Homo sapiens: one gene and its partner. The protein of the gene in region 1 interacts with the protein of each later gene in a pairwise test. Each region holds a gene or a part of one and is shown on either strand. Other genes may lie near its edges. The genes, in order: FRS2 and YJU2.

Region 1 (3,821 bases):
GGGACGGGGGGGGGTGTGGGGGTGGGGAACTTAAGGTGCAAACCTAGCCTAGGTGACTGTTAAATTAAGGCTTAACATTTGTTTCTTTTGAGTGTTTTTGGTTGCGTAATTTTAAAAGTTGGGAATGCTATAGAAATATTTAAATTCTATTAGAATGTCCAAGGCAAAATGTTCAGGTTAAGTAGAAATAGCTTGGACCCTCTGTTAATTTTAAAGAAAACTGTGGGTTTGCTGCTTTAGATATTAAAATGATATGGGTTTATAGAGTTATGTTGTGTATCATTGTTGCTGGTAAATAAAAAATGTTTAATTCATTTATTTTAACAGTGCTTAAATTTTTCTCTTAAAGTACTCCCAATGGCAGAAATGTGGATGAATAGTACCCTCAGAAGTCTAGGAATGCAGCCCAAAGTGTGCCTGCTATAAATTGAAGTTTTTGATGCCTGTAGGGTTTTATATTTTAAAATTTATATAAATGTTGCATTTTGCTATCTTACATGCATGTCGACAGTATTTTAAAATACTTTTTTTTTTTTTTTTTTTTTGGTTTGAGACGGAGTCTCGCTGTGTCCCCCAGGTTGGAGTGCAGTGGCGCGATCTCAGCTCACTGCAAGCTCCGCCTCTCCTGGGTTCACGCCATTCTCCTGCCTCAGCCTCACCAGTAGCTGGGACTACAGGCGCCCGCCAACACGCCTGGCTAATTTTTTGTATTTTTAGTAGAAACGGGGTTTCACCGTGTTAGCCAAGATGGTCTCAATCTCCTGACCTCGTGATCTGCCTGCCTCGGCCTCCCAAAGTGCTGGGATTACAGGCGTGAGCCACCGCGCCCGGCCTAAAATACTCTTAACTAAAATTGATGCTCCTAAGAGAGAGTGCAGTGTTCATCCTGCGGCTTTTTATATCCCTATGACATGGCTTTATCACTGGTTAGTAGTACTGTGCTTAAATATTTAATAGTAGCTTATTTATTTATTTATTTATTTATTTATTTATTTATTTATTTATTTTTTGAGACAGAGTCTCGCTCTGTTGCCCAGGCTGGAGTGCAGTGGCATGATCCTGGCTCACTGCAAGCTCCGCCTTCTGGGTTCACGCCATTCTCCTGCCTCAGCCTCCCGAATAGCTGGGACTACAGGCGCCCACCACCACGCCCGGCTAATTTTTTGTATTTTTTAGTAGAGACGGGGTTTCACCATGTTAGCCAGGATGGTCTCAATCTCCTGACCTTGTGATCCGCCCACCTCGGCCTCCCAAAGTGCTGGAATTACAGGTGTGAGCCACCGCGCCCGGCTGTTTATTTATTTTTAAACCCTGTGTCTGATGGTTTTTGTTGGAACATAGGAGATGGTAAACAATTTCTGATACTTCCTATGTATTTTTAATAAATAGCAAGCTGTTTTAAATACTACTAAGAAGCTGTAGTTTCATAGAAATAAAATGACTTTTAAGGGGGATTTAATCCGTTAAAATTTTTTTTTCTATTTAAGATTTTAAAATTATCAATGTATTTCTATCATAATAAAATATGGTAGTACTAAGAGCTTTCTGAAATGATGGAAATGTTCTATGTCTATGCTGTTCAATATGGTGGCCCCTATATAGCTTCTGAGCACTTAAAATATATCTAGTGTTATAGGAGAACTAAATTTTTAATTGAATTTAATTTTAATTAATTTAAATATGAATACCCACATGGGGCTGGTGGCTACTGTATTAGTGCAGCTCTATAAGGTTAGGAAGACGAGAGAGAAGAGAGATCACACATCTTCATGACACCTCTCACCTCACATGTAGGCAGATTAGGCACTCAGTAAGTATTTGTTGAATGAAATAATTCATCTTTTTCTTTGAATTTTGAAGACCAGTGTTTGTGAAGTATTCTAAATTTTTGGGGAGGAGCCATAGATTTTTGAATTTTTTTCTTCTATATTGATTTTCAGAATTTACTTTTATTCTTACAAAGACATACATCATTATGTGTGTGTGTGTGTGTGTGTGTGTGTGTGTGTGTGTGTAAAGAATTATATAATGAACTACCATGTATGACCAACCACTTTAAAAAACAGAACACTGCCAGCACCTTTGATGGCCGTTCATGTTTCTCACTACTTGTGATCTCTGACATACTCTTTAAGTAACCGCCATCTGAATTTTATATTAATCATTACCTTGCTTTTTGTTTTAATTTTATATGAATGTCTTTTTTTTTTTTTTAACATTTCCCTCTGTCTTGAAGTTTGGAAGTTAAACTCTGTGTAGCTTTATTTTAGTTCTCCCTGACCTCCAACAAATGAGATACTTTTGTTTTAAACACTGTTACTTTGATTTGCCTATACACTGTATTTGCAGATGTCTGCTTATTCTCATTTGCATCTGAGACCTCTGATCTAGGACCATTTTTCTTTGTGTGAAGTACATCTTTTAGAATTTTCCCTAGGGAGGGTGTGTTGGAAAACTTTTTGTTGGAAAATAACTTTTTCTTAGTCTCATTCCTGAAACTGGTTTTCCTGAATATATATTCTAGATTAGCAGTTGTTTTTTCTTTGTTCATTATAGATTTTATTTCATTATCTTCTGGCTTTTATTGCTGTTGAAAAATACACAGTGTGATTGACAGTCCTTTACAGTTAATCTGTTGTTTCTTTTTTTTTTTTTTTTTCTTTTTTTTTGAGACCAGTCTTGCTCTGTTGCCAGGCTGGAGTGCAGTGGCGCGATCTCAGCTCACTGCAGCCTCTGCCTCCTGGGTTCAAGCAATTCTCCTGCCTCAGCCTCCTGAGTAGCTGGGATTACAGGTGTGTACCACCACGCCTGGCTAATTTTTGTATTTTCAGTAGAGATGGGGTTTCACTATGTTGGCTAGGATGGTCTCCATCTCCTGACCTCATGATCCACCTGCCTCAGCCTCCCAAAATGCTGGGATTACAGGTGCAAGCCACTGTGCCTGGACTAATCTGTTGTTTCTTTATGGCTAGTTTTAGAACTGCTACTTTGTTCTTGGTGATCTGCATTTTCATTTTTATGTTTGGAAGTTGATTTCTTTTTATTTATCGTGCTTGGTATTAACTAGGTTTTCAAATCTGAAGATTAGTGTCTTTCAACAATTTTGGAGAATTTTTGGCCTTTTTCTTAAATTTTGTCTTCCATATTTTCTGTTTGGAACTTGTATTTGAAGTATGTTAGATCTTCTTACTCTACCTCCGTGTCTCTTAACCTGTCTTTTATATTGTCCATTTCATTATCTTTGTGTATTGTATTGTGTTCTGGATACTTTTCTTGAAGTTAGCTACTTCTCTCTTCAGCTGTGTTCAACCAGTTTATTGAATTTAAAAACTTTTTATTTAACTATTATGCCCATTTTTTTCATTATGGTTAAATACATATAACATAGAATTTACCATTTAACCATTTTTAAGTGTACAGTTCGGTGGCATTAAGTGCATTCACATCATTGTGCATCTGTCACCACTACTGATCTCCAGAACTTTTTCATCATCGTGAACCAAAACTTGTACCCATTAGACAGTAATTCCTTATTTCCTCTTTTCTCTAGCTCCTGGCAACCACTATTTGAGTTTCTGCCTCTACAAATTTGACTATTCTAGGTACTTCATGTAAGTGGAATCATAAAATATTTGTCTTTTTGTGTCTGGTTTATTTTACTTAGCATGTTTTCTAGGTTAGTCTATGTTATAGCATGTTCTTTGAGTTTTACAAATTTATGTTAGAGATGGGGTGTTGCTATATTGCCCAGGCTGGAGTGCAGTGACTCTTCATAGCGGCGATCATAGCACACTACAACCTCAAATTTCTGAACTCAAGCC
Region 2 (3,821 bases), on another chromosome or scaffold:
CCACGGGTCCCTGAGAAGTGGCTTTGGAGCCAGGCAGGTTGGGAGTGAATCCTGCCTGGCTGCTTCCCAGTGCTGTGACCTTGTTGTATTTACCCTTTGGAAAAATGGCAATTCTGACAGTTTAAAAGTATGTCCACAAACTCTCTGATGCTCCTCCATTTAAGGGGTGGAGGTGACTCCCCTCCCCTTGAGCAGGGGCTGGACAAGCTACTTGCTCTAATGGAATATGACAGAAATAATGGCACGTAACTTCTGAGACTAGGATGTAAAAGCACAGGCCTTCCTCCTTGCTCTCACTCTTGGGTCACATGCTCTGGGGTACGCAGCTGCCATGTTGTGAGGTTGCTCAAGCAGCTCCCCACACAGCGAGGAACTGAGGCTGACAGCCAACAGCCAGTAGAGGGAGCCAGTTTGCGAGTGGCTCCTCCAGCCCCAGTCCAGCCTTCAGATGATACTGCCCTGGCCAACACCTTGACTGCAACCTCATGGGAGCCCCCAAGCCACAACCATCCAGCTCAGCTGCTTCTGGATGCCTGACTCTCAAAAACTGTGGGATAATAAATGTTTGTTGTTTTCAGTCACTAAGTTTTGGGATAACCTGTTATGTAGCAATAGCTGACTAACACCAGGGTAAGAGCCCCTTGCTGTCAGTGTGGAGGTAACTAAATTCACACACAGACAGCAGTGCGACAGGCCCAGGCACACACCAAACCCTTGCCAAGGCTCATTTCCCTCCCTGTTGCTCTGCATGGCCATGGAAAATGTTGTATCTGGTCTGATGTGGCTTGCTCAGAAAACTCACATTTGGCAGGGGTGGGTGGGTCCAGGAATAGATAAGAATGGATGGGAAATATGGAAGCAGGAGGGGACAGCAGGGAACACAGTCATTTAAAAATCTGTTTTATATATATATGTGTATGTATATATATGTATATGTGTGTGTACATATATATATATATATATATATATATTTTTTTTTTTTTGCGACAGTCTTGCTGTCTTCCAGGCTGGAGTGCAGTGATGTGATCATAGCTAACTGCAGCCTCAACTTCCTGGGCTCAAGTGATCCTCCCGCCTCAGCCTCCCTAGTAGGTGGGACCACAGGTGCACACCAGTACACCTGCCTAATTTTTGTTGTTGTTGTTGAGACAGAGTTTTACTCTTGTTGCCCAGGCTGAAGTGCAATGGCGCGATCTTGGCTCACTGCAACCTCCGCCTCCTGGGTTCAAGCAATTCTCCTGCCTCAGCCTCCTGAGTAGCTTGGATTATAGGCGCGTGCCACCACGCCTGGTTAATTTTTGTATTTTTAGTAGAGACAGGGTTTCGCCGTGTTGGCCAAGCTGGTCTTGAACTCCTGACCTCAGGTGATCCGCCTGCCTCAGCCTCCCAAAGCACTTGGCTGATTTTTTTTTTTTTTTTTTTTTTGACACAGAATCTTGCTCTGTCACCCAGGCTGGAGTGCAGTGGCATGATCTCAGCTCACTGCAGCCTCTGCCTCCTGAGTTCAAGCAATTCTCTGCCTCAGCCTCCCGAGTAGCTGGGATTACAGGTGTCTGCCACCATGCCCGGCTAATTTTTTGTATTTTTAGTAGAGACGGGGTTTCACCCTCTTGGCCAGGCTGGTCTTGAACTCCTGACCTTGTGATCCACCTGCCTTGGCCTCCCAAAGTGCTGCGATTACAGGTGTGAGCCACCACGCCTGGCAAGCACCTGGCTAATTTTTTAATGTTTTATAGAGACAGAGTCTCACTATGTTGCCCAGGCTGGTCTTTGACTCCTAGACTCAAGTGATCCTCCTGTCTCAACCCCTAAAGTAGCTGGGACTACAGGTTCAAGCCACCATGCATGGCTCCTTTTAATATTTCTGAGAAAATACAAAATTGTCCTATTGGAAGTGAACATAATTTCTTTTATTTATTTATTTTTTTTGAGACAGAGTCTTGCTTTGCTGCCCAGGCTGGAGTGCAGTGGTTTGATCTCGGCTCACTGCAACCTCTGCCTCCCGGGTTCATGCAATTCTCCTGCCTCAGCCTCCCAAGTAGCTGAGATTACAGGCATGCGCCACCATGCTTGACTAATTTTTTTTTTTTTTTTTTGGAGACAGAATCTCACTCTGTCACCCAGGCTGGAGTGCAGTGGCGCCATCTCGGCTTCCTGCAACATCTGCCTCCCCGGTTCAAGCGATTCTCCTGCCTCAGCCTCCTGAGTAGCTGTAATTCCAGAAGCGTGCCACCATGCCTGGCTAATTTTTGTATTTTTAGTAGAGACGGGGTTTCACCATGTTGGTCAGGCTGGTCTCAAACTCCTGACCTCGTGACCCACCCACTTCGGCCTCCAAAAGTGCTGGGATTACAGGTGTGAGCCACTGCGCCCAGTGTTAAGTTTTAAAATTTTTAGTAGGAACAGGGTTTCGCCACATTGGCCAGGCTGGTCTAGGACTCCTGACCTCAAGTGATCCTCCCGCCTCAGCCTCCCAAAGTGCTGAGATTACAGGCATGAGCCACTATGCCTGGCCTCCTGGGGACATCTTAAAGTTTTACCAACCACGCCCCCCACCCCATCTTCCTTCCTTGGGGACCTGAGGCAGGAAGGGCACAACCATTGGCACACACACACACCCACACACACAGCGCCCATGAACACCTACATGGCCCCCGACTCACCTTCATGGGGTTGTTCAGCTCCTCGTCCTCCCGCTCCTTCTGCACCCTCTTCTCCTCCTCCTCCAGGAGCTTCTCAGCCTGGAAATTCCGCGTGGCTCCATGCTCCATGGTGTAGTCTGTGTTTTCAGGGTCTGTCTGCAGGGAGGATAGACAGACATCAGCTCCTACATCCCCAGGCACTAGAATCTTCTAAAGTACCACCAGCAGATCAGGGCCCCTTCTCTCTGATTTTTACTGGTTCTACTACCTTCTCTTTTTCTTGTCTTATTGCTTTGACTGGTGAGATTTCTTCCTAGTGCTCCTCCCATCTCCATGGGCAAAAATGCCCAACTCCCTGGCATGGACTTTAAGACTCTTCTCATCTGCCCACTGCCTCCCTGCATCCTCCACTCCCTACCCTTAACATGACTGCAAACAAACTCTCCAATGAGGCAGGTGGATCACTGGAGGTCAGGTATTCAAGACCAGCCTGGCCAACATGGAGAAACCCTGTCTCTACTAAAAATACAAAAAATTAGGCAGGGCAAGGTGGTGCATGCCTGTAATCCCAGCTACTCTGGAGGCTGAGGCATGAGAATCACATGAACCTGGGAGGCTGAGATCACACCACTGTACTCCAGCCTTGGCTACAAAGTGAGACCCTGTCTCAAAAAAAAAAAAAAATCTCCAAGGTTCTGCACATGTTGTGATTTCTGCCCTTTGTATTTATTAACACCTTTTCTTTGATTATAAATCACATGTACAAATATGTATACAGCATGCCCCTGTTTTTGTTTATTGAATAGAGAGGCTAAATACACCCTGGTATCTTAAATTACACACTGGAACAGAAAAGTGACATTAGCAGAAAAACTGAAATCTACCTTTGGTCTAAATGCTAATAGTAACACTATGTTTTTTATTTTTTTGGGGACAGGGTCTCGTGCTGTTGCCCAGGCCGGAGTGCAGCGGCAGGATCATGGCTCACTGCAACCTCAGCCTCCCGGGTTCAAGCAATCCTCTCACCTTAGCCTGCCGAGTAGCTGGGACTACAGGTATGCACCATCACACCTGGCTAATTTTTAAATTTCTTTTTGGTAGAGACAGGGTTTCGCCATGTTGCCCAGGCTGGTCTCTAACTCTTGGACTCAACCGATCCTCCTGCTTTGGCCTCCAAAG

What was found.
Region 2: the proteins of FRS2 (region 1) and YJU2 interact in a two-hybrid assay, tested with the Homo sapiens proteins (one large-scale study listed by BioGRID).

Annotation. Positions count from the first base shown.
Region 1 is NC_000012.12:69,476,749-69,480,569, forward strand, and holds part of FRS2 (fibroblast growth factor receptor substrate 2), read left to right. Parts: intron 1-3,550; exon of another isoform or gene 3,551-3,611; intron 3,612-3,821. UniProt on the Homo sapiens protein: Adapter protein that links activated FGR and NGF receptors to downstream signaling pathways.
Region 2 is NC_000019.10:4,253,332-4,257,152, reverse strand, and holds part of YJU2 (splicing factor YJU2), read right to left. Parts: intron 2,799-3,821; coding exon 2,664-2,798; intron 1-2,663.